Homo sapiens: one gene and its partners. The protein of the gene in region 6 purifies or fractionates together with the protein of the main gene of each other region. This does not show direct contact. Each region holds a gene or a part of one and is shown on either strand. Other genes may lie near its edges. The genes, in order: FABP5, PSAT1, FKBP1B, MTHFD1L, ACAA2, TAGLN2 and NAXD.

Region 1 (4,253 bases), on a different chromosome or scaffold from region 6:
ACTCAGCTTCCCTCAGAACACGAATATTTTCTGAGCAGTAGGGCCTCGGGTGTGGGACATGCAGACCCTTATTGGGAAAACAATTGAGTGTTAAATGGTACCACAAGGAAGACTGGTGTGACCCTAAACTGAGGGCAGGGACTTGAAATGAAAGGGATGCAGTTCAGGGGAGTACATGTCCTGCAGCATGTTGGGAGATAGCAAACCAACCTCAGATTTCAATTTTGTCAAGGATGATACAAGAACTAGTAGTGTCTCGGTGACTGTGGTCTACTCAGAGCTCCATCACAGCTACCCTGAGCCCAAGGCAGTCAGGTGTGGTCTGATTTCATAAGGTCTTCAGTGAGACGGACCTGGATGGGGATTCTGGTTCTACCACTGTGAGAACTATCTTTGCCCTATTTTCTCTTTTGAAAAATTGGGATAACACCCCTAGCAAAAATATAGTGGAGACCAATGTCTATAAAGTGCCCAGGAAGCACATCTAGCACTTAGTAGCTACTCAATAAATGCACATTACCGCTATCGAAACGGCCAGCCTGTGTGGCAACTTCCTCACCTCAGTCCATCTGACTTCCAACAGGCACCCGGGAGCACCAAGTAATAAATTGTGAAGAGTACACTTTGAAACGTATCATGTTCTACGCACATGTGTAGGGTATTATTATAGTTCAAGAGAAAGAGGGAACCCGCTGGTGTCTGAGAAGAAACCCGCTGGTGTCTGAGAAGAAACGGTGAAGGGTGCACTACGAAGGGAATATAAACTAATCAAACATTCTTGAATGGCAATGACAGTCACTAAAGTTGACACTTCCTGCAGTCTTTTAGTTTAGAAACCACACTTCCCGAGACGTCCCCCATCCCAACAGGGATAAAATCCTCTAGCTCAACTCAGGTATATCCCCACTATTGGGCCAGGGAGACCTGCGGATGGCGAGAGCAGGTTCTCTTAGGAGGGTGTGGATTGTGAGCTTGTGCGCTGGCGAGGAGCAGAAGGTCAGGGAGGCACCGTAGTTAATGAATCAATAAACCAAACAGCCGATCAATCACTTCCTGCAGTCCGAGTCCGGCGAGGGCTAATCGATTGGTCCGGGTATTTTGAAAGGAAAAACGGCGGTGGATATGTTGTCAAACGGAGGGGTGCAGGAGAGGCGGGGCCAGGCCTCCAGGTGACCCCTCTGGCTTCCTGGGCCTGCAGAGGCGCCGAAACGTGCAGGCGCCGGCGTCCATGAGGCGTGGGGCGCGCCGGGCGAGTCCCTGCTTGCAGGAGGCGCCCGAGAGGCCGTCGCGTACCCTGGCAAGAGGAGCTGGTTAGCACCTCCCGACCCCGAGAAGGCCCAGGGGGCGCCCGGCGGGCGGGGCGGGGACCGGGCGAGGCCCGCCTCCCATTGGCCGCATAGCGCCGCCCAGCGCGGGCCGCCGTTATAAAGCAGCCGCCGGCGCCGGGTGCCTCACAGCACGCTGCCACGCCGACGCAGACCCCTCTCTGCACGCCAGCCCGCCCGCACCCACCATGGCCACAGTTCAGCAGCTGGAAGGAAGATGGCGCCTGGTGGACAGCAAAGGCTTTGATGAATACATGAAGGAGCTAGGTGAGGCACCCGGCCTGGCAGCGCCTGCAACGTGGCGTGTTGTGCGGTCGTCTGTCCCTAGGTCCCCGTCAGCGTGCCAGATTCTGGGGCAGGAGATGCTCGGCGGCCTACCCCCATCCCCTCCCATCTTCCCCACCACGCGGCCGTTGGGTGCAGCGCGCGCAGCACCACGCGGGCAGGCGGCGAGGAGCAGGGAGCGTGCGCGCCTCTTGCCCGCCCGCGGGCCGCAAGATTCCGGAGGTGGTCCACCCCGTGGTCCACCTACCTCTGCTTCTTTCCCTTCGCCCAAACGGCAGCCCTTCCGCATTGCTTCCTGTCCTTTAGCGCGCGCACCCGTCACCTCACGCTGCACTTCTTTCGACCCCCTCCAGGCGACCCTGTATTTCCCTTTTTTCCCCCTTTACTCATCCTTCCCCTTCCTGCCACCATTCTGTCTCTCCCATTTACCCCATCGTGGCAGCACCCACTCCCCTTTCCCTCCCTGTCGCATCTTTTGTTCCCTGTGGCGCGCAGGTCACCCTCCGTTTTCTTCATGGGGACGCGGTGCTGGCGCGCAGTTTCCCGCAGAAATCCTGTGGAGGGGTCTGAGTGGCGCTACAGCTTCAGCTTGCATTCCTCTGTCAGCCCCGTCTCCCCCAGGTCCTCTGCTCGCCCTTACCAGTTGAGCCGAACCCTTTGGATTGGTACCCCATGGAACACCAGGGCCCCCGAGAAGCGTGGCGCTGGCGGTGCCGACCTGCTGCTGGCACTGCCGGGCCGGGGCGCCGCAGTGGGCGGGTGGCCTGTGGGAGGAGCGCAATGAGGCCTGGGGGTGGCCGTGTGTTGCCATCCTGGCCTCTGCCACTTGAGGGTGAGGAGGAAGGAGGCAGTGGGCTTTGCTGGAAAACCGTAACAGAAACTGCCTGGCCCTCCTGCGGCTAACTGCATGCAAGATGGGTGTGGCCCTGCAGAAGGCAGATGACTTCTTGAAGCGTTCCGAGGGAGAATGAATCTCAGTAGTAAGATTCATTTCTCACTCAAAACAGTGCTTCATTATAAATTACTGTCCTTTTCTATGCCAGTGACAGATTGCATGCTGATTGAGACACTGGATAAATTGCAAACAAAAATGGACCTTTGTCACAGGCCACTAGGAAGTGAGATGGAGTTAGCATAGCATGGATCCTCTCTGGAAGGGAGCTTCCAGCCCTAAGGGATGGCTGGGATTTATGAGGGTGCTTCAGAAGCCGGTATCCACAAATGTTAACCCGGTTGCTCGCTGGTGAAATAACTACCGTGACCCTCTATTGATACCTGGTCGCCGTGGCACTTCGGAATCACTCCTTCAGTACCCTTTATCCAAGACCATGTGGTGTTAAGGCTGGTTTATGGTGAATCATGAGTGTATTTTTGATACTATCAGTAAAGAAGGCAGTATTTTTCTTTTTCCTTGTAAACCTACATCAAGATGACTCTGGAAAAAGCGATTTACTGCACCTGTCCAATAAATAACAGTGTGTGTGTGTGTGTGTGTGTGTGTGTGTGTACAAGTTTAAGGCCCAAAGAACACTTTTCTCTGCCTGTAGAAAGCAAATTGTGTGTAGGTTTGGAGGGCTTGTTTCCAGGATTCTGGAGTCTTGAAGGTTGTCAAGACTCAGTTCATTAGGGAGCAGTCACAATGTGAAAAGAGCAGAGCCCATTTATTTGTCCAAAGTGAGAGTACATAATGACTCAATTAACAGCATAAGGCACCAGCCCTGAGCTGGCAAAAGAGAAGGCTCCAAGGGGAACTTTAAAGCCTGGCTGGGTGTTCTTCATCAAGACAATCATGCTGCGTAGGTTGTAGTCTCCTCATTTATGAAACAGTGATTTGGCCTGGATCTAAGATTCCTTATACATGTTAACTAACTCTAAGGGGAAAGAGATAGATCATAAATTACATGTTAACGTTGAGGGGAAATTGATAGATCATAAATTAAAATATAATTTAATATGTTATATATTTCTATTGATTTATATACCTATGAAATAGTTTTTATATTGAAAGGTAGGATTTTTTTTCCCATTTGTTAGCATCATGATTGTGCTGCTGAGTTTTAAAAGATTGTGCTATTTGAATATCTCAGGATCAATTTCTATTTTGTGTAGTCTATTAATCAAATATTTATCGAGAACATTTATATGCCAGACTGTGCTGGAGTCATAGAATGTAATGGTTGGCAGAATCTAGTAAAAAGAAAAAGATTGAGCAAACTCCTGAATTTGCAATTTTGAATGCTTTATCTCCACCTTCTATCAACTGCTTTGAGTAAATAAAATTTGGAAGTCCACATTTCTTCCCTAACTTTCTGAAAGCCAGCATAGCATGGTGGCCAGAGCTCAGATTTGGAGCCAGGGTGCCAGTGCTCTTGGTTCCCAGCTCCATCACTTTCTAGTTGAATGATCTTGGGCAAGTTACTTCCGTGCCTCGCTTTCTCATCAGTAAAATGGAGACAGTAACATCTGCCTTTTACAGGGCTGTTGTAAGGCTTACCTGAATTTCATATATGTAAAGTGCTGGCTCATACCGTGGGATATATGTTTACAATAGTTATCAATAAGCAAATAAGTGAAAATATGCCGCACAAAGTGATTACAATGGAATTATTGCTTTTATCATGTAAATGATAACTTTGGTCTTCC
Region 2 (3,500 bases), on a different chromosome or scaffold from region 6:
CTACTTTTGCAAAGATGAGCTAAACGGATTTTTTAAAAATCTTCATTTTAGCATCTACGTCATGGGCTTGGTTCTGGAGTGGATTAAAAACAATGGAGGTGCCGCGGCCATGGAGAAGCTTAGCTCCATCAAATCTCAAACAATTTATGAGATTATTGATAATTCTCAAGGATTCTACGTGTAAGTCAATGGATTTTATCTCCTATTTTGCCTCTTGTGAATTTAAAACTGTGTATATACTGTGTACCTTTGAAAAGTGGACATATTCACCTTTCTCTGAGACATTAAAATACTGGTGAGTGTGTGTGGTCCTGGGCCCCATGAGCAGGGGAGTGGGTGGTGAGTTCTTCCCTCCTGTACCTCACCCTGGGGCTCTCAGGCTTTGGGACCTGTGTCCCAGTGGGTGGTGATGTTTCTCACACCAAAGACATCGCCCTGGGGAAGAATCTCAGTTCACTCCCTGGGGTAGGTCCCGTCTACTCCCTCCTTTGTATATCTTCTGGGAAAAAAACAAATGTACTTTCTGAAATGTGTCAATTTAAGGACTCCTGTTAGCGATCTTTGGGACAAATACTCCTGTCCTCCTCTTCTGCGTTATTTCCCTTTTTAAGAAAATTCACTCCTTTCCTTATTATAAGACAGATGCTGTTATCCCAGAGTCTGTGAATGGAATTGGCTTTGGCATGGGCTGACTCCAGTTTAAATATTCCCATGAACAAATGATTAATGAGTATGTCTTAACCACTGCCCCTGCACCTGGGAATTCTGCAGAAAATGTCTGGGTCTTGTATTAGTTTCCTGGGGCTGGTGTAACAAAGTACTACAGACTTAGTGGCTCAAAACATCAGAAAACTGATTCTCACTCTTCTGGGGCCAGAAGTTCAAAATCAAAATGTCAGCAGGGTTTTGGTCCCTCCAGAGAGCCATGCCTTGCCTCCTTTAGATTCTAGTGGCTCAGGGTGGTCCTTGATTTGTGGCTGCATCACTCCAGCCTCCACATCTGTCTTCACATGGCCTTCTTTCTGCCGTGTCTTCCCTTCTGTCTCTTAAAAAGAGAGGTCTTTGGATTTAGGGCCTGTCCAGATAATCCAGGATCATCTCATCTCGAGATCCTTCACATAATGACATCTGCAAAGTCCTTTTTTTCCAAATAGGTCATATTCACAGATTCTGGGGGTTAGGACATGCGCATACCTTTTCAGGGTCACCATTCAATCCACAACAATAGGCCCTTCACCAAAATGCCAGATGGGAAGCACCTAGTGCGGTGCCTTGGATGCAGAGAAGTGTAACAGGTGGTATCTTCATTTGCTTTTCCCTTTCCCTTAAGGTGGTTACAGGTATACAAAGACCAGACTTCCTGCTGTGTACATGTATGTGCGCCTACACATATACATAAATGCTTAAACTCACCAAACTGAGAACCCCCTTCTTAGTGGCCATTGCTCTTTGGGGTTCAGTCTATAGTAACAAAAATATCTGCTTGATGGTAAGTTGGAAATTTGCCCTCTCTCAGATAATTCAGTGGCCACATGGGACCGACAAAACGATGCCTCTGTCCTAACTTAGGATTGTACTTTTTAGCCAAGACTTAACTAACACATCTCCATAACCACCCATGGGCGGGCAGTGCTGGTGTACTTTTTGGATGGCATGCTGCTGTCACCTTTGTTCTTGCAATGCTTGTTGCCTGTTTCTGTGAGCTCTTGACATGCAGTGGCCCTCCTCCAGCTGCAAGCCCAGGGGGAGTTAGGCTTGGCGGGATGCCTTGGCCTTTGGGCTCCTTTCCCAGGCACCATCTCAGGGAAGGGGTACACACTCTGCATTACTGCCTGTTCTCTGGTTCTGTGCAACAGAGAAGCAAGTGCAGGCTGGGGGCTCAGTGCTGGGGAAGCTTCCACACTAGACCTTGATGTGTGAGTTTGGAGGCCAGGATACCCTGCCTGTGCTCACTGAAGCCATTTAAAGTGCACGATCAGCAGTAGGTATCCAAAGATTTCATAGCCAAGGGCTAAAGAATGTGGCATGAGCCTGGAAAAGGGGGATACTCTTTGGTTGGAGTGAAGAGAGGGCTTTTGCATGAGCTTATTATGAGCCCTGGTCATGAGTGGAATTAGGCAGAGAAGAGGGCAGAAGTACTTTTAGAAAGGTTAGAATCATCCCCGCAAAGGCACTGAGGGAAGAGTGTACAGTGTGTTTGGGGAGCAGAACATGGGCTGCTTGAAGGGCATGGTTTATGCTGGGATTGGGAAGAAGGTCCGTGGAAGTGTGTGAGGGCGTGTTTAGTCCACCTATTTATTCATTCATTCATCTACTCACCCACCCATCCACCCACCTACCCATCTATCCATCCACTCATTCACTCATTCATTCATTCATCCATCTGTCTACCCATTCATCTATACATTCATCCACTCATCCACTCATCCATCCACCATTGACCCACCCATCCATCTATTCATCTACCACCTGCCTACCTATCCATCCATCTACCCACTCACTCATCCATCTATCCATCCATTACCCACCCATCCTTCCACCCACCTATTCACCCATCTACCCATTCACCCATCCACCCATCTATCCACCCGCCCATTCATTCACCCATCCACTCATCCAGACATCCATCTGTCCACCCATTCATCCATCCATCCATTCATCCATCCACTCACCTACCCATCCACTCATCCATCAATCTTCCATCCATCCATCTATCCATCCATCCATCCATCCATCTGCCCACCCATCCATCCATTCACCCACCCATCCACACACCCACCTATCTATCCATCTACCTACACACCCACCCATCCATCTATCCATCCATCACCCACCCATCTATTCATTCACCCTTCCACCTATCTACCCATCTATCTATCCATCCATCCATCCATCCACTCATTCATCCACCCGCCCACCCACTCATCTGTCCATTCACCCTTCCACCTATCCGCCCATCTATCTACCCACTTGTCCATCCATCCATCCATCCACTCATCCATTCTCCCACCCACCCATCCACCCACCCACCCATCCATCTATCCATCTGTCCATCCATCCAACCGTCCATCCATCCATAAAATGGCTCCTGAGGACCTGCTCTGTACACTAGCCTTGTTCTAGGCTCCTGGAAGACCGAGAAGAATAAATCATCTTCCCTGGCTCCCTAAAAAGTGCTGAGAACCTGAATGTGAGTAAAAGCACTTGGTGGGTATAGTGGACGGGAGACCAATTTTTCTATTAGCTTTTAGCTCTATACATTTCTCAGGAGATGTGTAGACATGATGTTAGAGGACAGAAAGAACGGTGATACCACTGGGAAAAAAATTAAGGGCATCAGGAACAAAATAAGAAAGCATAGAAGGAATTCTGGGACTCTCCTGAATCCCCCCCCGCCACGCCTAGGTCCTTTAACTCCAAGCACTAAACCTGGGCCTCTCCCAGAAGGCAGCCTGCCAAACTAATGTGGCAGGCAGGTCATCTCCTGGGCAGGTCATCTC
Region 3 (3,500 bases), on a different chromosome or scaffold from region 6:
AGAATCTCTTGAGCTCAGGAGTTCAAGGCCAACCTGGACAACATGTTAAGACCCTGTCTCTACAAATTTTTTTTAAAAAAATTAGCTGGGCATGGCAGCATGCACTTGCAGTACTAGCTACTCAGAAGGCAGAGGAAGAAAGATTGCTTGAGCCCAGGAAAGGTCAAGGCTGCACAGAGCCGAGATCATGCTGTTGCACTCCAGCCTGGGTGACACACTGAGACCCCTACTCTTAAAAAAAAAAAGTAAACTCTAAAAGAACAGGGATAGAGATCTTGTTTGTAGTGTTCACTGCTGTATCCCTGTGATCAGGCACAGGCTTGGCACACCATAGGTACTCAGTAAATATTTGTGGTTTTGTTTTGTTTTGTTTTGTCTGTTTGTTTATTGTGACAGGGTCTTGCTCTGTCACCCAGGGTAGAGTGCAGTAGCATGAACACAGCTCACTGCAGCCTTGACCTCCTGGGCTCAAACAATCCTTCCACTTCAGCTTCTTCAGTAGCTGGGACTATAGGTATGCGGCACCACACCCAGCTAATTGAAAAGATTTTTTTTTTTTTTTTTTTTTTTTAGAGATGGGGTCTCCCTATGTTACCCAGGGTGATCTAGAACTCCTGAGCTCAAGTGATCCTCCCACCTCAGCCTCCCAAAGTGCTGAGATTACAGATGTGAGCCACCATGCCTGGCCTCTCAGCAAATATTTGTAAATTATTGTGTTTATTCATCTTTGATGGATGGATTATAATCTGCATTGTAATCTGGTATTTGTGTGTCTGTTTCCCTACCTTCCTCATGAGTTCATACATTGCTCTGCATGTCTGAAGTCTGGTCCAGGCCTGGCACATAGGAGGCCAACTGTAAATGTCTGTGGAATGGATGATGTGAAGTAAAAGGGGCAATCAAAGAAAGTGGGGGTGGGGTGGTGGGAAAGCCCAGGAGACAGCAGAATTGAGAAAATTGAGGGGGTAAAGTAAATCCAGGCCAGAGAGGTGACGTGATTCATTCTGGCTCGTACAGGGCCCAGAGCCAGAACTAGGGCCACAGGCATCTCCATGGCATGGAGGGGAATGCAGGCTGGAGCTCTTGGTCAGGATCATACTTAATGTCCCAGGTGTTTTTCCAATATCCTACTCCTTCATCTGCCCTCATGTCTCCCTGCAGGAAGGACATTCCCCAAGAAGGGCCAAACGTGTGTGGTGCACTACACAGGTAAGTCTCACCCCCTCAGCCCCCACCCAGTCCTTCCCCTCCCAAGGCAGGGCTGTCCTCTGAGCTTCTCTCCAGAGGTGCCTGCCTCTGGATCAGGGCTAAAGCCCAAGGCAGCAGGGTCTCCCTGTGACCAGCCATCCTCTACTCCTCCCAGCCAGTCTAGTGGGAATGATAAAGGAGGCTTGGAAGGCCAACTCTTTCCCTCTTCTACCAGCAAGGGCCATCCATGGTGCCAGCTTCTAGGTGAGTCAAACACCTTCAGTCCCCTTCCTTCTGTTGCAGGTATGGTGGAGCCCCTGTCCCTGCTGGGTCTGTCTGATATTTGGAAATCCCTCCTAGAGCTCCCCGCAGACTTTCTCTCCATCCTGCAGTATCATTAGAGAAGAAGAGGAGGGGAGAGGACAGACAAGTCACCCAGAGGCTCCGATGCCATTTGAGGGGTGGGGTGATGGCAGTGCTTTTCTCTGGGTACTGAGGGAGCCCAGAGCGGGACTGATCCCAGTTGGATGCTCTTTATCTGCAGGCGAGGTAGAGTGAGTTCTTCAGGACTGCTGGCAGGAAGATCATGAGCAGGTGTTTGTTCCAAGGGAGGTGAGCACCCTGCCTTGTGACCTGCTTCCTAAAGTGGCAAACTCGATGACAGCCACTTAGCAGACAGCAAGCCCAGGTTAATTCCTAGGACATACTCGGATGGGGCCATTTTTAGCAGTTCTGTGGGCCAGTGTGAAGCACAAGGTTAATTCTAGGCAGATGGTGTGGATGTTTTCAGCAGTTGTGTTGCTGGTCGCTGATGTCAGTGGGCTGGACCATGTTTTATCTCCTGGTGATGTGGCCTAATTACCATGGGTCGTCTGGGGCCTCTGACCTGTGTAATTGATTTAACAATTTTGCATGTTGTAGACAGACCAGTATTTATCAAGTTACTGAAACCACAACATCCTTTTGCAAAGTCCTTTCACAATACATACATAGGGCAGCAGCTCCTGTCTTGGGAGAGACTATGTCTTATCAAACATAGCGGGAGACTATGGGACTTTTGGTAAACTTTAAAGTTAAATATAAATATAGTAGAGAACATAATGTAAGATGTCTAGGTCAATGAATTTTTTCAAAGTGATCACATTTATGTGACTACCACCTAGAGAAGCATAGAACATACAAGCATAGAACCAGCATCCCCAAAAGTCCCCCTGATGCCTTCTCCCAGTCATTTCACCTCCCTAGAGGTAGCTATCATTGTTTTTCTTTTTTTTTTTTTTTTTGTCATTGTTGTTGTTGTTTTGAGACAGGGTCTCACTCTGTGACTCAGGCTGAGTGCAGTGGTGATCACAGCTCATTGCAGCCTCGACCTCTCGGGCTCAAGTGACCCTCCTGCTTCAGTGTCCTGACTAGCTGGGACCACAGACATGAGCCACCATGCCTGGCTAATTTTAATTTTTTGTAGAGATGAGGGTCTCACTATGTTGCCCGGGCTGGTCTCGAACGCCTGTATGCAAGTGATCCTTCCACCTTGGCCTCCTAGTGCTGGGATTACAGGTGTGAGCCACTGTGCCTGGCTGGCAACTATTACTCTGACTTTTGTCTCCATGGATTGGTTTTGCCTATTTTTGAACTTCATCTTAATGGAACCACAGCGTAGGTACTCTTTTGTGTTTGGCTTATTTCACTCACTATTATGTCTGCGAGATATATCCAGAATGGTTTATTCCTCTACAGTATTTTAACGTACAAGTATGTTGCAATTTATGTATCCTCTCTACCGTTGATGAACATTTGGGTTGTTCATAGTTTTTGTTTATTACAAACAGTGTCACTTTGATCAGTCTTGCAGGCATCTCTTAGTGTACATGTGTACAGACATATGTGCATGTTTCTGTTGGGTATATACCTGGAAGTGGGGTACCTCCTGGGCTCAGCGTTAGCAGTACTGTCTGACAGCTTTCCAAAGTCGTTGTGCCAGTTTCCACTCTAGGCAGCTGTGTAGGAGACTGCCAGTTACCCTGTGTCCTCCCCAACACTTGTTATTGTCAGGTTTTGGTTTTGTTTTGTTTTTTCTTTTTTTGAGACAGAGTCTATGTTGCCCAGGCTGGAGAGAAATGGCATGATCTTGGCTCACTGCAACCTCTGCCTCCTGGGTTCAAGCGATTCTCCTGCCTTAGCCTCCCGAGTAGCTGGGATTACAGGCGCCCGCCACCATGCCTGGCTAATTTTTGTGTTTCTAGTAGAGACGGTGTTTCACCATATTGGCCAGGCTGATCTCAAACTCCTGACCTCAGGTGATCTGCCTGCCT
Region 4 (3,500 bases), on a different chromosome or scaffold from region 6:
ATAAAGCTGCTGTCTTGTATCCAGATTGACCATCAGTATCCTTATGCCCTTCAACTAACTTGAAATTTGTCAGTTAACAGAAATTACTGGGTGGCACTAAAATAAATTATTCTTAATATAAAGGGTAAGAAAGGGTCGGGTGTGGTGGCTCATGCCTGTAATCCCAGCACTTTGGGAGGCCAAGGTGGGCAGATCACCTGAGATCAGGACTTTGAGACCAGCCTGGCCAACATGGCAAAAACCCGTCTCTACTAACAATAAAAAAAAAAAATTAGCCGGGTGTGGTGGTGGGTTCCTGTAATCCCAGCTACTTGGGAAGCTGAGGCAGGAGAATCGCTTGAACCCGGGAGGCGGAGGTTGCAGTGAGCTGAGATTGTGCCATTGCACTCCAGCCTGGGGGACAAGAGCGAAACTCCATCTCAAAAAAAAAAAAAAAAAAAAGAGTAAGAAAGGATCTTCCATTGTAATCATACTATCATTGCCTTTTGAAACAATTTGGAACCTGATTACAAAGTTGAAAATCCCCATCTGTATGAAGAAAAGCTTCACTGGCTGGTCACCTTGGCTCAACGCCTGTAATCCCAGCACTTTGTGAGGCTGAGGCGGGTGGATCACAAGGTCAGGAGTTTGAGACCAGTCTGGCCAACATGGTGAAACCCCATCTCTACTAAAAATACAAAAATAAAAAATTAGCCAGGTGTGGTGGCAAACACCTGTAGCTACTCAGGAGGCTGAGTCAGGAGAATCGCTTGTGCCCGGGAGGCAGAGGTTGCAGTGAGCCGAGATCATGCCGCTGTACTCCAGCCTGTGCGACAGGGCAAGACACCATCTCCAAAAAAAAAAGCTTCACTGTGAGTTATGATATGGGAAGAAAAGTCTTGGCCTGGCCACCACAAGGAATCCCTCAGGCCTGGCGGTGGGAAGCAGAGGAGGGCGCAGTCTCTTTAGGGCAGAAAGTGAAGAACATTTCTATGACAATGGGGAAATCAGTTCACCTTTGTGTTGGTAAACAAAAGGAATGTAAGCTGTCCTTTGAGCTCGAATCATAGTGGTGATTGCCAAAACCTACCTTTGTTTTTAGAAGATAATAGCACATATTCCACTTGCTTCCCCACAGTGACCGAAGCTGGCTTTGGTGCTGACATCGGAATGGAGAAATTCTTCAACATCAAGTGCCGAGCTTCCGGCTTGGTGCCCAACGTGGTTGTGTTAGTGGCAACGGTGCGAGCTCTGAAGATGCATGGAGGCGGGCCAAGTGTAAGTGCCCACACCGCCTTCCTAATACCAAAGAAATTTCATTATGTTAAAACAGAATTGAGCATTTGAAAAATTCCTGCCCATTTAATGACTATAGTTTTCTAGAGTATTTTTCTTAAAACTTTTTTTTTCCTGTAGACCTCCCTCGTGGACATCTAAAACGTTTTTTGTTTTGTGTTGTTTTTTGTTTTTTCCCAACACCACCATAGGGCACTTTGAGTTTAGTAAGTTCGAGTAAACAGTAACACCCACAGTTCTTTCTAAACAATATTTTGGAAAGGAGCATAATGCAACCACTTTTTAGTCTCAAGCTTCACATCTGATACTCAGGCCAAGATTGTATAACCATATGGTAATGGGAGGTTAGAGGCTCTTGTCCCTGAACGAAGAACAAGAGGATTAGAGTGAGTTCTTTGATGACAGAGATTTTTCATTGTTTGTACAGATAGTTTTTCGGTTCACTGATGCTGCAACTCATCAGATTTCATCTAAAACTATTTTCCTTCTCTTTCTGTTTATTATGATTTCTCCTCACAACTCTGTTATAATACTGGATTGTTTCTAAGAGCTTTGCTTGGAAAACACAAATTCGATTTTAACTTCTTTAAAGACTTTTTATATTTACCTATCCTAATATATATAGAAATTACAGACATTATAAAGGAAATATATTCCTTTCCACAGAAAACCTGTGCATAGATTTTTGGGGGTTTTTTTGTTGTTGTTTGCTTGTTTGTTGTTTTTTTGTTTCATTTTTAGGAATTTCCAAGTGGAGAATAAGACATTTTATACTGATTAATCATTTTGAAATAAAATAAAATTTCTCTATCATAATATTCACATATGAGACGAACTGCCAAATCTGATTTCTTAATTGGTATACTGTACTGTGTATGTGACAAAAGTCATATATTCAATGATTATTGCATAGTCAAAACAAGTAGCAGGTTTGCCATCATGAAACGCTGTAAAGCAATTCTTTCTCCTGGGAGAGGTGGACATGATTTTTATACCATTTTACAGATAAGGAAGCTGAGTTTTGATAGGCTTAGGGAATATGGACAATGTCAGCAGGCCAGCAGAGAGCCGAGAACTTCAGATCTAAATCTCCTACTATGTCCACCATGCAGAGCTGGATGTTAATGAAGGGCAGAAGTTTTCTAAATCCAAATCCACTCCTAATACCCGACACTTAAGCACTTCATTTTTGCCTAAAGCTTCATCATCATTTCAAATGCAAGAATGATATAATACAGATTAAAAGTAGTAAATCATAAAGAATTCTGACTTCACTCAAAACACCCCTTGTTGCTACAGTCCTTCCTGGATTTTAGACATTGAATCTGTATAACAACTTCTATTTTTAAAAACTACTTCCGCCCATGTAGGATGCATTTGGAATTCTCCCTCCCTGCCCTGCCACCCTGAAAATTATAGAAAGGGCTTAGAGATTGTCTGATCTCATTCAGTCTTTATAAAGAGAAAATCTCTGAGGCACAGGGAGACGCAGTGACTTGAGTGGTGTCACACATCTATTTCAGGGACTGATCAGATCTACAGTCCTGGTCTCTTGACATCAGTCCCATAGTTTTCCAGACTCTGGTCTCTGTCCTGTAAAAATTCTCTACATGGTTTACAATCCTATTTCATTCATCTTAACATATGTGCTCTGTTATTCAGTGGTTGCACTTTCGTGCCACATTAATCCTTTGTGTCTCTTCCACTGCTGCTTAATGTCATGGTTCTCAGCCAGTGATCATGGTAACATGGAACAGGGTTAGTAGGCACAGATATGGGTGGAGGATAAGAAAAGGTGGGGACCAGCCAGGCGTGGTGGCTCATGCCTGTAATCCCAGCACTTTGGAGGCTGAGGCAGGTGGATCACCTGAGGAGTTCAAGACCAGTGGTGGCGGGCGCCTGTAATTCCCACTACTCAGGAGGCTGAGGCAAGAGAATCGCTTGAACTTGGGAGGCAGAGGTTGCAGTGATCTGAGATTGCACCATTGCACTCCAGCCTGGGTGACAAGAACAAAAGTCCATCTCAACAACAACAACAACAACAAAAAAAAAAAAAAAAAAAAAAAAAAAAAAAACCAGCAGGGACCAGGAAGCCCTGTGAAGCTAGGCATCCCTCTCCTGGGCTCCAGTAGTACCTTCTGCCTCACATTGTTTCATGAATGCCTTGTTCTGTGTCTCCCTATGTAATTCTCAATTCCTTGAGTTTAGGGACTGTGTCTTATTAA
Region 5 (3,500 bases), on a different chromosome or scaffold from region 6:
ATTTTATTACAAACAAAATAAGAGCCAGAGGCGTATTTTAATAAAACAATTTTCACATTAATTTGTTTCTATAACGATATATCTTAAATAGTGACCTCGGTTTTCCTAGTAATAATTTTAAGAACCATCAGGTTCATAGAGGCTCATTATTTGCTCCTTTTCTGAGAAAGGCAAACAGTGGAAAGTGTTGGAAGAATGAAGTGGTTTCCTTTTTATGAGTCACCTAGATTGAACTAGTTCTTGTAAATCTCTGTTCTTGTTCAGATACATCCATTAATGGGATAAATTTTTCTTTTGCCTTTTTAAAGGGTATGTCCTTTATTATCTGCTGTACATTTATGCCAGGTATTAATATCTGTTGATTTTCAAGATTTATATTGTGTTAAGAATTACTATTCTTAGCCACATGTAGGTAGGGCCTGTTACTCAGGCAAACATGATTGAAACCTTTTAGTTTTCTCCTCCTACATCTTGGTAATGGATACTTTAGCATTTGCTTTACAGTTACTTTAAAAGCATTTCCTTTTGAGACACTGTAAGCTACAGTACAATATTTGTTTGATTTACCATTAATTTGTAAAATCAGTGTGTTTCTTAATACATTGTTTGGGTACGGTAAAAGGAGTTTTTATTACTGTTTGTTTTTAAATAGGAAATTTGTGTTAAAGAAGCTGAAGTTGTTTTATGTGGAGGAACCGAAAGCATGAGCCAAGCTCCCTACTGTGTCAGAAATGTGCGTTTTGGAACCAAGCTTGGATCAGATATCAAGGTTGGAACCATAAAAATTTAAAAGAATTAGTTCTTATTAGCATTATATAAGTACTTTTAATAACATACCTTTTTATGGGAGAGAAAACTAATTTTGAAGCCAATTTCGTTGATGAGGATTGGCAAGATATGAATGATTAGAAGTTTGTAAACTATTTCAAAACTCTATTTTGGTGGTTAGTTTTGACATTTTAACCCATATGAAATTAGATTCTATCTATCTCAGCAGACCTCTAGTAGTATAATTATCCTGTGTAAGTGGCCATAGGCATGGGAGAGATGGAGGAAGGGAAGAAGTGGATTAAAAAGATAGACAAAAGAGTGAATTAATCTCACTACTAAACAATTAGTAATCTGAGTAATTAAATCTTTAACGTGACTTATAGAAGTTTTATTTCTGGGACAGTCTCAGAATAGATTTCTTCATCATCACAGAAAACATCTTTGAATACAGATTATATTGTCCCAAATCAAACAAAAACTGATTCTTTTATCTTTGAGAGCTACAACTTGAGAATGATGGTACAGTACTGATAAAGAATGATGTTTTCTTCTCATTCCCATGTGAAAGGGCTACTGACATTTTATATTTTTTAGCATTTTCTATAGTAATGTTTGACTCACACTGTTCACCCAGTTTCTCACCTGGCCTTTTTGGAAGTTGAAAGGAATGGGACTTAAGAGAATCTATGCGGATTTTAGCCACCAAACACATTTGAGATATCTTTTATGAAGACAGGTCAGTGAGTTAAATGTTGATGAGGCAGCAAAGTGGGGCACACTTACCAGAGACTAACTACTTGAATAATAATTAACAACCTTTCTGTAACTCTGGGAACCTGTCCCAAGATCTTTTCAGCCTCATAGTAACCGATAGAACCAGCTATTCCTGTCACTGAGGCGCAGGATGAAAAAGAAAAACAGATAATACTGTTTATTACAGAGCTCAGGGCTGGTTTACAAAGATGGCTATAAGAAAACATTGCATGAAGACTCATTGTCAGGTTTTCTACAAAATATGACCTTGAGGATTTAATTTTTGATCGTAGGGTAACTTCTGTGATCTCACCATGCACGTCTAGTCCTGTTAGCTGTTCTTAGACCCCCACATTTAGAGAGGGACAGAGAATGTGTGCATTTTATTTTGTGACATTGAATGTTTTCAAAAACATTGCATGTTTTTAAAAAATATCCCATAACTGAATATGAATAGTGGTTATCAGAAAGTCTTAATTTTACTTTTGTTTATTGGAAGTGTTGATTATTTAAAGAAATTATAACATATTACTTTTAAAAGGAAATGCCTTAACAAGTCACTTTATTAATGTCTTTTAATAGCTGGAAGATTCTTTATGGGTATCATTAACAGATCAGCATGTCCAGCTCCCCATGGCAATGACTGCAGAGAATCTTGCTGTAAAACACAAAATAAGCAGAGAAGAATGTGACAAATATGCCCTGCAGTCACAGCAGAGATGGAAAGCTGGTGAGTGAAACTGGAAAGTATCAGTATCTATAGAATAAATATCTATAGGAAATATTTTCATCATTTCTATTATGGTTATATAATATTTACAAATCATACCTTTAAGAATTATTACATCTTTTCATTATTCCTTTGTCTTTAGATGATCAGATATTTTATTAATTATTGCAAAATTAACTAGGAATTTCTCTTTTGAAAAAGTTAGTACTACTTAAAAAGTGGTATTGCTACTTGACCCTAGATGGACCCTTGAGTTTTGTGCTGAACTGGTCCTGTTGTCAGTAGAACATGATGAGGAATACGATACGTTCTGTCAGAGGTGATAGCTCACTGTGGCAACTGGAATATAGAGGATGTCCTCTCCCACAAGCCATATCATAATCATAAGAAGGGGTAATGTATTTGGAAAAGACCCACTGGGTCTTTTATGCTTTCCTTCTGCCACTCCTAATTAAGAATCATTGTACCTAACTCAGAGACTTAGAACTAGTCCGAGACTCTAGTTAGAGTGCCCTGGTGTAGCACAGCAGGTTGCTATAGAGCCGGTCCAAAACAGGCAAATGTGACAGCAGTTCTTTTAGCAGTGCAGCAAGTTGAAGAAATGTGATATTTAAAAAATTAAACTGTTAAAGCAAGTGGAAACTCTTATTTAGGAATATTAAATGCTTGAAGTAATGAGGATAAAGTCCATCTTAGCATTTCAGAAGGATAAGTGGAATAGAGCTGATGCCATCTAACTCGTGTGTTTTTTTACTTATATGTTCATAGTGGAAGAGGATTGGTCTAGAAGTCAAGAGTTATCAGTTCTGTTTCTACTTCTACCACGCACAAGTTATCAAGCTCAGTCATATCATTTATTCACTGAACCTCTGTAAGATAGAGATAACAATATTTGCCTTCCCTATTTATCTAATAAGGTTGTTTTAAAACCAAATAAGGGCATATAAGGAAAGTATTTTGCCAATTGTAAAGTGATATGAAAATTAAGGTTAGTATTATTCCTGACCCTATTTCCAAAGCTATAGATTACTACAGTACATTCTAGTCAGTGGAGGTCAAAGTAGGTAAGATGTTTTACTTATAATTGTATTAGTGATTGCTCCCATAATTTCTTCAGGTTGCCTATCACTATTAAGTTTCAGTTAGATTACTTTGTGGCATAGACAACTTGGTAACTTTTTAATTGCTTATCTCACCAAAAGAAGTTTAAAAGGGGTATTAAGTCCATTTATTGCCATTACATCTA
Region 6 (2,448 bases):
CCTCCCACAGTTCTTTCCTTAGAGACATTCTTCCTCAGTGTCACCTCAGTCTTCCACTGCCTGGGAGGCACATTCACCCTTACCCTCCACTCCACGGGAAGGGAGGAAAGCATGGGCCCTCTCACATCCTTGACAAAGGCCTTCAAGCTGAGGAAGAGGCTGGGACATGTGTGCCTTCAGTCTTCTCCTCTTCAGGTTAAACAATCCCCAGTCCACTGGACCCAGTCCTGCTCTCCCTGCACTTCCAAGCCAGTGGGGCCCGGCTCTCACCGTGCCATCCTTGAGCCAGTTCTGGAAGTTCTCGCGTCCAGGCTGGGGCCGGCCCACATCCTTTCGGCACTGGGTGGTGATCCACTGGATCAGGATCTGCTCCAGATCTGCATCATATTGTTTCTCAATCTTCTGCTGCACCTCCCGGCTCAGGCCATATGCAGGTCCCCTGTTGGCCATTCCAATGGGTGGCGGTGGCTGCGGGGAGCTAGGGAGAGGACACACCCGGGCTTTTGGTCAACACCTTGCAGCCTGGGGAGTGGGGAATTCAGGAATTCTGCCTGCAGGGATATACACCATTTCCCCCACGGTGAGCCCCAAGGATGAGGACCAGAACTGTTACCAAATGCAACCCTGCTCTTTATAGCCCTGGGAAAGAGAATGATTTGGGGAGAGGAGGAGGAATGTGGAACAGCTTAGGAAACTGGTTGGATCTACCCTCCCTCAACCTCTGGGTTTTCTTTGCTTTTTTTTTAACCATCTAGGTTGGTGCAAACCACTGGATTTTAATTGAGCACCTACTATCTGTGCTAGGGATTGTGAAAGAGATAGTAGAAGTCCTTGGTCCTCAAGTGCCCACAGTGCCATCAGGGAGACAAAGTGAGTACATATGAACAGGTAAGGATTGCACACAAAGAATACTAAAGTGCACAGTTCAGATCACATGTTGTAGGAGTTAAAAGAAGCAGACGGGCAGAAGCAGCCTGGGAAGGCTTTCTGGAAGAGGTAGGCTTGAATAGGTCCTTGAGGGATTTCAGCAAACAAATCGAATTTCCTATGAAAAACCAGGCAATAAAAACAAATTCTACTTTCCCCTCTAGGAGCTATGACAGGCAGAATCATGCCCCCGCAAAAGGTGTCCATGTCCTAATTCCCAGAACCTGTGGATATTGTTATCTTATATGACAAAAAGGGACTTCGTAGATGTGATTAAGATCTCGAAATGGGGAGATTATCCTGCATCATCTAAATGAGCCCAGTGTAATCACAAGGGCCTTACTAACTGAAAGTGGGAGATAGGTGAGTCAGAGTGGGAGAAGTAACAACAACAACAACAAAATGGAAGTAGAAGTCAGAGTCACACAGGGCCATGAACCAAGCAATGCAGGTGGCCTCCAGAAGCCAGAAAAGGGAAGGAAATAGATTCACCCAAAAACCCCAGAAGGAACACAGCTCTGCCAACACCTGTATTTTAGCCAGTGAGACCCCTGTTGAGTCTGTAGAACTGTAAGATGCTGTATTTGTGTTGCTTTAAATCACTAAGCTTGTAGCAATTTGTTACAGCAGAAATAGGAAACTAATACAGGAGCCCTGGGTGATATTTTTGGGGAAACCTGGAGAAGAGAAGGCAAGACGGGGAAATACACAGGAGGGTTTCTTTAACTTCGTTGGAGGAGCTTGATTAGCAAGAACTGGGTGGTTTCCCGACCAATGGCCTGAGTTGGCGGACCTCACTGTGGCAGTGTGTTCCCACCACACTCACCACCTGGGTCTGACACTCAGGGGCTGAGCAAGACCCGGGCATGGTATGGATGCCAAGGGGAGCCAAGAACCAAGAATGGGCCACAGTCCCCATTTTCTGTCCCATCCCCACCCTGGTTTGGCTTTTCTCTCTTCTCCAAAACAGAGCTAGCTGTCAGGCTGCTCACGAAAGGGGACCCCCAGGACAGGCATCTGCGTTCAAGGGGAAGAAAGAGAGCCACCCCTTCTAACCACATCTGGCTCCAGGCCAGGTTGGCCTTCAGGGATGAAGTCACTCCAGCTCCCCCTCTCCCACACACCCAGGTTAAACAATCCCGTCACCCCCTCTCAATGGACCTTGGGGCTCTGCGAAATACAAGGGGACCAGCCTGCCTCAAACCCTCAACACCTCTCGGCCGCAGAGGCTGTGTCTTGGGCCAGTCCCTCCCGTCCCGACTCCAACATGGCTGCTCCTTTTTACCCCAGCTTATCAAGCTGCACATTTCCGGCAGATCCTCCCCTAAATCAGTTATTTTTAAACCTCATTAAGAGCAACCCGCCCCCTCCACTTCCCCCAGCCCGAAAGCTGGGCCAGATAAATGTCAGTCTGGGCCCCGACCCACAGCGCCAGGCACACACACCATCAGCTTGGGGAAGGCAGGCGGGGTGGGGTGGCTGAGTTCTGAGGAGAAACCAAGAGAAGCATCCCTGCCCTTC
Region 7 (3,500 bases), on a different chromosome or scaffold from region 6:
GACACAAAGGTTCTCCACGTCCCCATCAGATTAGTTAGATACAGAGTTTCGACACACAGGTTCTCCAAGGCCCCACCAGAGCATCTAGATACAGAGTGTCGATAGGTGCACTCACAAACCCTGAGTTAGACACAGAGTGCTGATTGGTGTATTTACAAACCTTGAGCTAGATACAGAGTGCCGATTGGTGTATTTACAATCCCTGACCTAGACATAAAGGTTCTCCAAGGCCCCACCAGAGCAGCTAGATACAGAGTGTCGATTGGTGCATTCACAAACCCTGAGCTAAACACAGGGTGCTGATTGGTGCACTCACAAACCCTGAGCTAGACACAGGGTGCTGATTGGTGTGTTTACAATCCCTGAGCTAGATATAAAGACTCTCCACATCCCCACCAGACTCAGGAGCCCAGCTGGCTTCACCCAGTGGATCCCGCACCAGGGCTGCAGGTGGAGCTGCCTGCCAGTCCTGCGCCGTGCGTTCGCATTCCTCAGCCCTTGGGTGGTCGATGGGACTGGGTGCCGTGGAGCAGGGGGTGGTGCTCGTCGGGGAGGCTCGGGCCGCACAGGAGCCCATGGAGGGGGTGGGAGGCTCAGGCATGGCGGGCTGCAGGTCCCGAGCCCTGCCCGGCGGGAAGGCAGCTAAGGCCCGGTGAGAAATTGAGCACAGTGCCGGTGGGCTGGCACTGCTGCAGGACCCAGTACACCCTCTGCAGCCGCTGGCCCGGGTGCTAAGTCCCTCATTGCCCCGGGCCAGCAGGGCTGGCCGGCTGCTCCGAGTGCGGGGCCCGCCAAGCCCACGCCCACCCGGAACTCCAGCTGGCCCGCAAGCGCTGCAGGCAGCCCCAGTTCCCGCTCGCGCCTCTCCCTCCACACCTCCCTGCAAGCTGAGGGAGTGGGCTCCAGCCTTGGCCAGCCCAGAAAGGGGCTCCCACAGTGCAGTGGTGGGCTGAAGGGCTCCTCAAATGCCGCCAAAGTGGGAGCCCAGGCAGAGGAGGTGCTGAGAGCAAGCGAGGGCTCTGAGGACTGCCAGCATGCTGTCACCTCTCATTTTGTTTAATGTTTTCTATTTTAATGTTTTGTATTATCAGGTGTCTGTCAAGTCAGGATCACTTTACATGCTACTGCAGTGTATAATCTTGTCACAATGTATTGGCTCATAATAATAAAAACCACCAAATATTACATATATGTGTGTGTATCTATACATGTAGTTTTTTTTTTTTAATAGAAAACCTTTGAAACCTTCACTGTAATCCTATCAGGGAAAAATGATTCCCTGTTTATTATTGTTGTTATTTTAAAACGTGTAAGTAAAGTGATATGAAAAATACATAATGACTAATGATTTGGGGAATTCTCAGGAATTCAGATTTCCTGCCTCCGAATGCTGCGTATTAGTATCTGTTGGAGAACTGGATGCCCTTGCTGGGGCGGGGGCTGTCTTCATGGGTTAGCCTAGGAGCCCAGCTGTTGTTCATAGCGTTTCCAGTGGGCTTCGCCTTTCAGAGTTCCCAGTGTCCTGCCTTGTTTACGGGCTCTGCGAGTTCATTGGGTCTTTCTGCTTCTCTATTTTATTCATTTACTTGATTATTTTCCATTTATTGTTTGATGGCCTGATGTTGCATTTTATTAAGAGTCTGCTCAATTTTCTGTCACTCTTGGGAAAAGTGTCTTAGTCGGTTTTGCGCTGCTGTAGCCGTACCACAGACTGGGTAATTGATAATGAACAGGCGTTTACTGGCTCACAGTTCTGAAGGTGGATGTCCAACATCAAGGTGCCGGCATCTGGCGAGGGCAGAAGGGCAGGAGAGAGACCCTTATGCCTCTTTTAAAGGTCATTAAACCAACCCATGAGGACACTGCCACATCACCTTTTAAAGGCCCCACCTCCCAGGACCCTTCCCTTGGCAATTAAGTTTCACCATGAGTTTTGAGAAGACACATACCCACACCATAGCAGCAGGCATGGTGCTCAGTCTGGTTTTCTCTTCTGGCAGGGCATTTTGGAAGTGTCAAAGGCCAGGGACATCCCTGTTGTCATCGACGCGGTGAGTTGACTTCTCTCCTCCTGGCTCGGACTCCCGGAAGGCCTGTGCAGTGAGCACGGCTCCTTGTTCTGTGCAGGATGGCCTGTGGCTGGTCGCTCAGCAGCCGGCCCTCATCCATGGCTACCGGAAGGCTGTGCTCACTCCCAACCACGTGGAGTTCAGCAGACTGTATGACGCTGTGGTGAGTCAGTGGACCCCCTGGAGGGTAGATGCAAGCCCTGTTCGTCCTGAAGAGGGTGAAGGACGAGCTCCATGCTTCTGCCCAGCCTGTCCCTGTGGACACACCTGCAAGTAATCGCTGTGCCTCTCCCAGCGGATGGCGCGTCTTCCCATTAATGCGCTTGGATTGGATGAACGATGGTGTAGTGGGCTTGGGACAGGCAGGGACTCGGGTCAGTCAGCCCCTCCTGCAGTGCACTCTGGACAGGTCACTTTGTCTGTGTCCTGAGTGCCTCATCTGTAATGTGATGATGGCATCAGCTTCACGGGGTTGTGAGGATGAGATGAGGAAACCTATGTAAAGCCGTGAGTCCCCACATGGTAAGTGTCCCATCAATGTTAGTGCCCAGTACGACTGGAATTTGTATTACTCCTGCAAAGCTCTCAGAACCCAGTCTTGGGTGGTCCTCCTTCAGCCTGCTCTGATGAGGTAGAGGATGGGCACTGGAGCAGGCACCGTGTCAGCACCTGCTCGGAGGACTCACTGCAGGTGATATCCTGGGCATCCTCCCACCTACATGGCCTTTAACAGGTGCCTGGGTGATCCCTTTAGACACGAGAGCATGAGTCTCATGGCGGATGGGACAGGGCTATCTGTCGTCGTGTGTCTGAGGAAGACTTTGCTTTTTCTCTGTCTTCCTGTGTTGTCATAGCTCAGAGGCCCTATGGACAGCGATGACAGCCATGGATCTGTGCTAAGACTCAGCCAAGCCCTGGGCAACGTGACGGTGGTCCAGAAAGGAGAGCGCGACATCCTCTCCAACGGCCAGCAGGGTGAGTGGCGGCTGCCCTCTGTGCATGGGCCAGTGCCAGGTCAGTCAGCATGGCCACACCGAGCATGAGCCCTGGAAGACCTCTCCCGTGCACACCCGTGTTCACACACATTCACACAGGGATTCCTGATGAGCTCGTCAACCACACTTTCTTCAGAGTCCATGTTTTGACTTTTCACTGTTTTGCCAGGGGAGGTGACAGTGGTGAGGGCAGGCTTTCGAGCCGTGGGCCTTACCCGTTGGTTGAATTCCCTTGCCTCAGTTATGAGAAGCAGTCTGGCGGGAGGGTGCCTGCAACAGCAGGGCACAGTGCAGGGTCCCGCGTCTCCAGCTGCCACCTTCATCTCACCTGTGGCATCCACCATCCATGCAGTTATTTGGGTATTTTATTGCATTTCATTCTCTTTTATCAAAATGACTGGAAAGTGCAGAAAGCCCCGAAGCTGATGCTGGTAGT

Evidence for each region.
Region 1: the proteins of TAGLN2 (region 6) and FABP5 fractionate together in Homo sapiens (co-fractionation; one large-scale study listed by BioGRID). This does not show direct contact.
Region 2: the proteins of TAGLN2 (region 6) and PSAT1 fractionate together in Homo sapiens (co-fractionation; one large-scale study listed by BioGRID). This does not show direct contact.
Region 3: the proteins of TAGLN2 (region 6) and FKBP1B fractionate together in Homo sapiens (co-fractionation; one large-scale study listed by BioGRID). This does not show direct contact.
Region 4: the proteins of TAGLN2 (region 6) and MTHFD1L fractionate together in Homo sapiens (co-fractionation; one large-scale study listed by BioGRID). This does not show direct contact.
Region 5: the proteins of TAGLN2 (region 6) and ACAA2 fractionate together in Homo sapiens (co-fractionation; one large-scale study listed by BioGRID). This does not show direct contact.
Region 7: the proteins of TAGLN2 (region 6) and NAXD fractionate together in Homo sapiens (co-fractionation; one large-scale study listed by BioGRID). This does not show direct contact.

Annotation. Positions count from the first base shown.
Region 1 is NC_000008.11:81,279,083-81,283,335, forward strand, and holds the start of FABP5 (fatty acid-binding protein 5), read left to right. Parts: upstream 1-1,453; 5' UTR 1,454-1,513; coding exon 1,514-1,592; intron 1,593-1,857; exon of another isoform or gene 1,858-1,962; intron 1,963-2,250; exon of another isoform or gene 2,251-2,342; intron 2,343-4,253. UniProt on the Homo sapiens protein: Intracellular carrier for long-chain fatty acids and related active lipids, such as endocannabinoids, that regulate the metabolism and actions of the ligands they bind.
Region 2 is NC_000009.12:78,317,625-78,321,124, forward strand, and holds part of PSAT1 (phosphoserine aminotransferase), read left to right. Parts: intron 1-51; coding exon 52-180; intron 181-3,500. UniProt on the Homo sapiens protein: Involved in L-serine biosynthesis via the phosphorylated pathway, a three-step pathway converting the glycolytic intermediate 3-phospho-D-glycerate into L-serine.
Region 3 is NC_000002.12:24,052,741-24,056,240, forward strand, and holds part of FKBP1B (peptidyl-prolyl cis-trans isomerase FKBP1B), read left to right. Parts: intron 1-1,161; coding exon 1,162-1,209; intron 1,210-1,363; exon of another isoform or gene 1,364-1,452; intron 1,453-1,732; exon of another isoform or gene 1,733-1,876; intron 1,877-3,500. UniProt on the Homo sapiens protein: Has the potential to contribute to the immunosuppressive and toxic effects of FK506 and rapamycin. PPIases accelerate the folding of proteins. It catalyzes the cis-trans isomerization of proline imidic peptide bonds in oligopeptides.
Region 4 is NC_000006.12:151,008,702-151,012,201, forward strand, and holds part of MTHFD1L (monofunctional C1-tetrahydrofolate synthase, mitochondrial isoform 2 precursor), read left to right. Parts: intron 1-1,117; coding exon 1,118-1,257; intron 1,258-3,500. UniProt on the Homo sapiens protein: May provide the missing metabolic reaction required to link the mitochondria and the cytoplasm in the mammalian model of one-carbon folate metabolism complementing thus the enzymatic activities of MTHFD2.
Region 5 is NC_000018.10:49,793,034-49,796,533, reverse strand, and holds part of ACAA2 (3-ketoacyl-CoA thiolase, mitochondrial), read left to right. Parts: intron 1-652; coding exon 653-769; intron 770-2,106; coding exon 2,107-2,254; intron 2,255-3,500. UniProt on the Homo sapiens protein: In the production of energy from fats, this is one of the enzymes that catalyzes the last step of the mitochondrial beta-oxidation pathway, an aerobic process breaking down fatty acids into acetyl-CoA.
Region 6 is NC_000001.11:159,920,060-159,922,507, forward strand, and holds part of TAGLN2 (transgelin-2), read right to left. Parts: intron 479-2,448; coding exon of another isoform or gene 451-478; coding exon 271-450; intron 1-270.
Region 7 is NC_000013.11:110,632,545-110,636,044, forward strand, and holds part of NAXD (ATP-dependent (S)-NAD(P)H-hydrate dehydratase), read left to right. Parts: intron 1-2,000; coding exon 2,001-2,051; intron 2,052-2,127; coding exon 2,128-2,232; intron 2,233-2,923; coding exon 2,924-3,044; intron 3,045-3,500. UniProt on the Homo sapiens protein: Catalyzes the dehydration of the S-form of NAD(P)HX at the expense of ATP, which is converted to ADP.